Homo sapiens: one gene and its partner. The protein of the gene in region 1 interacts with the protein of each later gene in a biochemical or structural test. Each region holds a gene or a part of one and is shown in the gene's direction. Other genes may lie near its edges.

Evidence for each region.
Region 2: the proteins of JUP (region 1) and PTPRK form a complex in vitro, tested with the Homo sapiens proteins (one study listed by BioGRID).

Annotation. Positions count from the first base shown.
Region 1 is NC_000017.11:41,762,712-41,766,211, reverse strand, and holds part of JUP (junction plakoglobin), read left to right. Parts: intron 1-1,144; coding exon 1,145-1,289; intron 1,290-1,395; coding exon 1,396-1,499; intron 1,500-2,890; coding exon 2,891-3,229; intron 3,230-3,500. UniProt on the Homo sapiens protein: Common junctional plaque protein. The membrane-associated plaques are architectural elements in an important strategic position to influence the arrangement and function of both the cytoskeleton and the cells within the tissue.
Region 2 is NC_000006.12:128,514,100-128,517,599, reverse strand, and holds part of PTPRK (receptor-type tyrosine-protein phosphatase kappa isoform b precursor), read left to right. Parts: intron 1-3,500. UniProt on the Homo sapiens protein: Regulation of processes involving cell contact and adhesion such as growth control, tumor invasion, and metastasis. Negative regulator of EGFR signaling pathway. Forms complexes with beta-catenin and gamma-catenin/plakoglobin.

The DNA of each region.
Region 1 (3,500 bases):
GGCATGATCCTAGCTCACTGCATCCTCAAACTCCTGAGCTCAAGCATTCCTCCCATCTTAGTCTTCCTGATAGCTAGGACTATGAGAACATACTACTGAGCTAATTAGCACCCGGGCTAAGTTTTAAATTTTTTGTGGGGATGGTGTCTTGCTCTGTTGCCCAGGCTACCCTCAAGGAATCCTCCTGCTTCAGCCTCCGAAATGCTGGGATTAAAGTCATGGGCCACCATACCCAGCCTACAGATAGCATTTCATTAAGTGGAGACCTCAGGCTTTATTCTGAGGGAGGGTATTTAGATTGCTCCTATTCCACCTTTATAAACAATGCTGTAATGAATGTCTAGCCTTTGTCAAAGAGCGGAAAAAATTCTCATCAATTTTTAACACTTCTAGGCTTTTCCCCAAATGGCCAGATTGATTTCCAGAAGGACTGGACTAATTTCCAGTGCCATAACTGGTAATGGGTGTGCATATAGTTTTGTCATGTCCTTGTCAGCACTGGGTATTATCCTTTTTTCAAAATTTTGGCTTACATAACAGTCATGAAACTATTGGGGTGGGCTGGGTGTGGTGGTTCACGCCTGTAATCCCAGCACTTTGGGAGGCAGAGGCGGGTGAATTGCCTGAGGTCAGGAGTTTGAAACCAGCCTGGCCAACATAGTGAAACCCTGTCTCTACCAAAAACTACAGAAATTAGCCGGGCGTGATGGCACACGCCTGTAATCCCAGCTACTTGGGAGGCTGAGGCATGAGAATTGCTTGAACCCGGGAGGCGGAGGTTGTAGTGACCTGAGATCGTGCCACTGCACTCCAGCCTGGGTGACAGAGCGAGACTCTATCTCAAAAAAAAAAACAAAAAAACTTATTGGGGTGCTTGGCTGGGTGTGGTGGCTCACATCTGTAATCCCAGCACTTTGGGAGGCTGAGGTGTGAGGATCACTTGAGGCCAGGAGTTCTAGACCAGCCTGGGCAGCATAGTGAGACCCCCATCTTTATAAAAAGAAAAAAATACATTAAAAGAAAAAAACGAACTATTCGTGCTTTAGCTGAAGCTCAGTAATGACAGTTCTGTCTCCTGTCCCGCGCTTCCTTGTTCCTGTCATATTCCCCGTCCATCTCACACTCATTCCCTCTTTACCCATAGCTGATCATCCTGGCCAATGGTGGGCCCCAGGCCCTCGTGCAGATCATGCGTAACTACAGTTATGAAAAGCTGCTCTGGACCACCAGTCGTGTGCTCAAGGTGCTATCCGTGTGTCCCAGCAATAAGCCTGCCATTGTGGAGGCTGGTGAGTATGATGGCCTTGAGGGCGGCTGGGGTGGGAGCTCTGCCCAGCTGCCAGGCTCAGTCAGCCATGCTCCCCGTGGCTGATGGCACCCCTATCCCTGCCCCAGGTGGGATGCAGGCCCTGGGCAAGCACCTGACCAGCAACAGCCCCCGCCTGGTGCAGAACTGCCTGTGGACCCTGCGCAACCTCTCAGATGTGGCCACCAAGCAGGTGAGGGAGGTATCTGGGCCTGGGGTTGACCTCTTCAGCTGCCCCATCCAGCCTCCTGTCTGGGCATCTGACCTGAGGTACTGTGGGAGGACTGGGGGCTCTAAATCTCTCTTCCTTGTGACTGAGGCTGGAAATGCCTTGAAAACCCTCATCTCTTTTTTTTTTTTTTTTTTTTTTTCTGACGGAGTCTCACTCTGTCACCTAGGCTGGAGTGCAGTGGTGCAATCTCGGCTCACTGCAAGCTCCGCCTCCTGGGCTCAAGTGATTCTCCTGCCTCAGCCTCCCGAGTAGTTGGGACTACAGGCACCTGCCATCATGTCTGGCTAATTTTTGTATTTTTATTAGAGACAGGGTTTCACCATGTTGGGCAGGCTGGTCTTGAACTCCTGACCTCAGGTGATCCACCCGCCTTGGCCTCCCAAAGTGCTGGGATTACAGGCGTGAGCCACCACATCCAGCAAAAGAACAGTTTTGACCTGGGCCCTGGGCTGGAGCAATAGTGTACCAAGAGACAGGCCCCCATGACTAAAAATACAATTTAAGGAAAAATGCAGCTCCAGGGCAAGTGCCCTGTGCCTCCTTCCAACAACCATTCCCCAGGCCTCCCCTAGCAATATGCTGTTTATCAAGTGCTCACCCTGTGCTGGCCCTCTGCGTGGCATTTGTGGACAGTAGCTCATTCAACCTGGGGTTAGAGTGTGGGACCCTGTGGGTTAGATGAAGACACTGAGGCTCGGGGAGCTAATGGCCATGGTCACAGGTAGTAAATGGCAGAACTGGGATTTGAACCCAGGACTGTCCGTCCCCAAAGCTGGGGTTTTTCTGTTCCACCACAAGGCCCACGTGTCTCCCTGGGAGAAGTGAGATAGACGTCTGAGGTAGTGATTTTACTGGAAATGGATTTGGCTCAGGGCCCCAGGGTGGTGGGGCAGCAGTGAAGGCCCAGAAAGGTGACAAGCGAGTAGACATGGCTCAGCTGGGCCACTGAATCATGCGGCCCCCTCAACAATTGCCTCCTGGTCTCGAGGCCTCCCTTGGCCACCGTACTTTGGCCTGAGGAGGGTTCTGCCTGGGTCTGAGGGCCCCAGGGAAAGGCTGATGAGTTGGAGGGAAGAGATGTGGGGCTTAGAGCCAAGCCTGGGTTCAGATCCAGCCACTAGCTGTGTGTCTGTGGGCAAGTTCCCCAACCTCTCTGAGCCTCATTGCCTCACTTGCACCACAGGATAGTAACGCCCTCTCACAGGGTGTGGCGGGTCATAGGGATGAAAGTTCCCGGGCACACACAGGCAGGGCTGACCCCTTTAGGTCATCCCACTCCCCTTGGACATATTCGAGAAGGCTCCCTGGAGTTGGCTGCTCCCTGACTCCCCCGTCCCTTCCTTGCCCTCCAGGAGGGCCTGGAGAGTGTGCTGAAGATTCTGGTGAATCAGCTGAGTGTGGATGACGTCAACGTCCTCACCTGTGCCACGGGCACACTCTCCAACCTGACATGCAACAACAGCAAGAACAAGACGCTGGTGACACAGAACAGCGGTGTGGAGGCTCTCATCCATGCCATCCTGCGTGCTGGTGACAAGGACGACATCACGGAGCCTGCCGTCTGCGCTCTGCGCCACCTCACTAGCCGCCACCCTGAGGCCGAGATGGCCCAGAACTCTGTGCGTCTCAACTATGGCATCCCAGCCATCGTGAAGCTGCTCAACCAGCCCAACCAGTGGCCACTGGTCAAGGTACTGCTGTTAGGCGAGGGGAAGGAGCTCCCTGCAGCAGGCTTAGGTGCTGTATTGGTATAGGCAAAGCCGCTGTAGCAAAGAAGCCCTAAATACAGTGGCTCGAATAAGACAGAAGTTTATTTCTCTCTCGTGTAATAGTTTAGACCTCAACAATGGCTCTGCTCTAAAATTCCAGAATTGGGATTTCTATCTTGTAGCTCTACCAGCCCCTAGGGCAGAGCTCAGAGTTCAAAATGCACATGAGTACCCTGGGTGGTTTCATTAAATT
Region 2 (3,500 bases), on another chromosome or scaffold:
TAAAGTGTAAAACTGCTGCACTGTGAGCCTCTTTAAAACCAGAACGTTCTGTAAATCCCAACTCATACATTCTTTCAGTTTCACCTCTCACTTAAAATGACACCCATGTCATATCTGAGGAAACCGAGGCATAGAAGAATAAAGAAGTATTAAAGTTTATTCACTGGGTTGTATAGCTGTGATCTCTTGATATAATGTAAGAAAGTTTTCTGTAGAAGGACTTAGATGACTGACGAAACCAGATGCAGGTAAGGTGACTTGGAAACTCAGCTTTCTCCTCTGTAAAATGGGGATAATAATACCCAACTTGACCTTTCCACATGTTTTTTATGATTAAATGAAGTAATTTATGGGAACTAGCACTGTAAATTGTAAAGCACTGTGCAGCTATCTGGGGTGTAATCATCATTAAGTGCCTTAGTCTCAGCTTTTTACTCCTTCCAAATTCTCTCTCCAGTAAGTGCAGGCTGTTCAGGATTTGTGTGTGAGTGTGTGTGTGCGCACGTGTGTGTGTGCATGTGTGTGTGTGTTTTCACTCAGCCAGTCATTCATTTAATTATTGTTTAACATAGTTATTGTTAAACATAAACATACTAGATTGGCCAGACCATAATTTTGTCAGCACAATGATCGATTATCCTTAATTTTTTTAACTTACCTCGTATAAATCCTTACTTGAGTTAGACCCATGGAAGAGTCACTATTAACATTCCTGGCATTTCTAACTACAGAAAAAAATATTTTTAGTCAGTTTCTTTAGCTGTTTGTTTAACTGTTGGTTCAGGTTTTCAACTCTGTGTTGAGAATAATATGTAGCTTTCTAGATGCAGTCTTATCAATGACCTAGAGAGGGACTATTGTCTCTCTTGTATGATAGGAGCCTGGAAATACAGCTCGAGATCCTGCTTTGTCTATAGTTCCTGACATGTCACCCTGTTGATGTGCACTTAGAATGCTGTAACTCATCTAAGCAGCACCTGAGCAGTATCTGACTCCTTGTTGTCTCTTTAGGTGAGATTAATTTCTCTTATACTTATTACCTGCTAGGAAGATACTTTGGAGCCAGCTTGCTTTAAGGTTTGCCTGTTAGTTTTTTTTGGTTTTGATTGGCTAAATATCCCTCGATCCCTCAATTCATTAAAACTCCACGTTCTAATCACTAGCAATCATATGTAGCTGGACATTTCCAGGACTGTTTTTTTTTCTCTCTCTAGTTCTCTTGCATCTGACTCTTGATTTTCCTAGGTCGTGAGATGTAGTTTTGTGTCTGGCCTACCCAGACGGAAAGAGGAGAGTCTGGCTGCTGTTTGGACATTGGCATGTGTGCTGCTGACAGCTCTTCTCTTTGTGCTCATAAAAGTGAATTTCAAAAATAAATCAACCCCTCTGCCACTCTGCCCCCTCCCACACTCCCTCCTACTCTTTTCTAGCAAAAACAGAGCCCCACATATATATACACAAGATCACAGCCCTTTTGTTTTTGCCAAATATATTTTAGTGCTGTACATGTCCTTAAGAACTGGAAATATGACTCATCCACTAACCAAAGCTAATGCCAACATTCCCACCAAATCTCATATTTCTAGCAATGATGGTTTGTTACAGGTTTTTCTGGCCTTTAAGGTAATATTTAATTCATGTGATAAGATTCCATATAGAAAAAGTGTGTTGGCTACTAATATTTTTAAAGTGCAGTATACCAGGTCTACTCAAACTGGTATTAAAGACAGTGAACATCATGCTAAATAGGGATCTGTGCTGCTCCCATTTCCCCTACTTGCTTTTCATGGAGTGCAGGAAGAGAGATGCTGGAAGATTGAGAGCAGGAAGCATCAAGAAAGTTTACAGATTGTTCTTAAAGACAAAACAAAGAACACAGGGATTCTGTGTGTGTGCACGTGTATGTGTGTGTGTGAGTGTGTGTATGTGTTTTTGATCTTTTACTTAATTTTTAGAAGAGGAAAAAAGTCCTATGGTATTTTTGACTTGTTTATTGAAATCAGCCTTTGCCTTTGCGCAAACACATTTTCTAGTTCTGTCAATGTAAAAATTTCCCTCTGTGTATTCTTCTCAGTCTTTACACTTTGATCATATGTATCTGGTCTGTGTTCCTTCTTCAAATGGTGTTTCTTTTTGCCTAAAAAGGTTGTAATTGCTTTTGAACATGACTTGTTTTTTTAATCAAAACTCATGCTGTTTGTCATAGTACTGAAAAAAAAAAGTACAAGACATCAATTCATGATAGGTCTTAAAACAGTATTTGATAACAAAGTAAGTGAATAATACATTAATCAGGCTATTTTTTATTTCAATTGAAGCAAAAAGCAAACTTGCATATCCATGAACTAATCTTTTAATGTCACAGAACATTTATTTGTTGCTGTTTCTGAAGTCTTTAAGTTCCCTTTTATAAATGGGGATAGACAATTTCAGAACCACATTGCTTGATATTTTGAGATAAGTGAGATAAGTTACATACAACTATGCCTTGGAAAACTGAAAAAATGTTATGATGTTTGATATCAGTGTGAACTCTGAATAGTTTGTAAACTTCACACTCCACATTAGTGCAAATGTGTTTTGTGAAAATACTCCTAAAGAAACGTAGTTTCACATAAAAGGTTTTTAAAGTTTCATGAAGATTCTGTTGTGGGAAGTATGTTTATTTTCCTTTTGTATTCTTGTGGGAATTCTTTTGATCTGTATTTAATATTTTAATAATGAAAACTAAGTGTATGTAATTTTAAAACTTAGTTTCGTGAGGTTTTTTTTAGATTGTTGAGGTTCTGGGAAAACACTGGGCCTGGGATCTAAGGATCACATTGATCCTCTCGTGGAACATTGCCATTTCCCCACTTAACTCTGGTTGAAATTTTTGGCATTCTCCTTCGTGTGTTGATAATCCATAAAAATTACAAGTGGCTTATTTTGTCACTTACAGTTGTTTTAGGATCAAATTAAGTTGTCCTAAATGGAATAATCCGTGTTTCCACTTGATATGATTATTGAGCTCTGATAATGAAAATGATGAACAGGGCAGTGCTGGCTGAATCCTCCAACAGGTGTCATTCTAGGAATTGTTTTAATAAGGGGAATTCAGAAACAAGGCAAAATAAAATAGTGCGTAGTGGAGTTATTGTTTGTATTTATTTTGTTGGGAAATGTGAAAGATGTAAGTATGTAGTCCTCTGTGTGAATACACACACACACACACACACACACACACACATCTTAACAATGCTAGGACTTAGTTGTAGAAACATTTAGGTTAGAAAGAAGGTAAGGGCATCTAGAGATGGTATCAAAACTCCATACTTAACATTTTTGGAAAGAGTAGTGAAAATAGATCACTACTTTATTTCATAGATGTAGAAACAAGTGGAAAATAAGCTGTATATAATCTATACTGTATACTATACTATACTGTTATACTTTTAAGGATAAAATAATAAATCTTTCTCCAGATTGGTATCTATTAATATAAACCCTTCCCAGTGCAG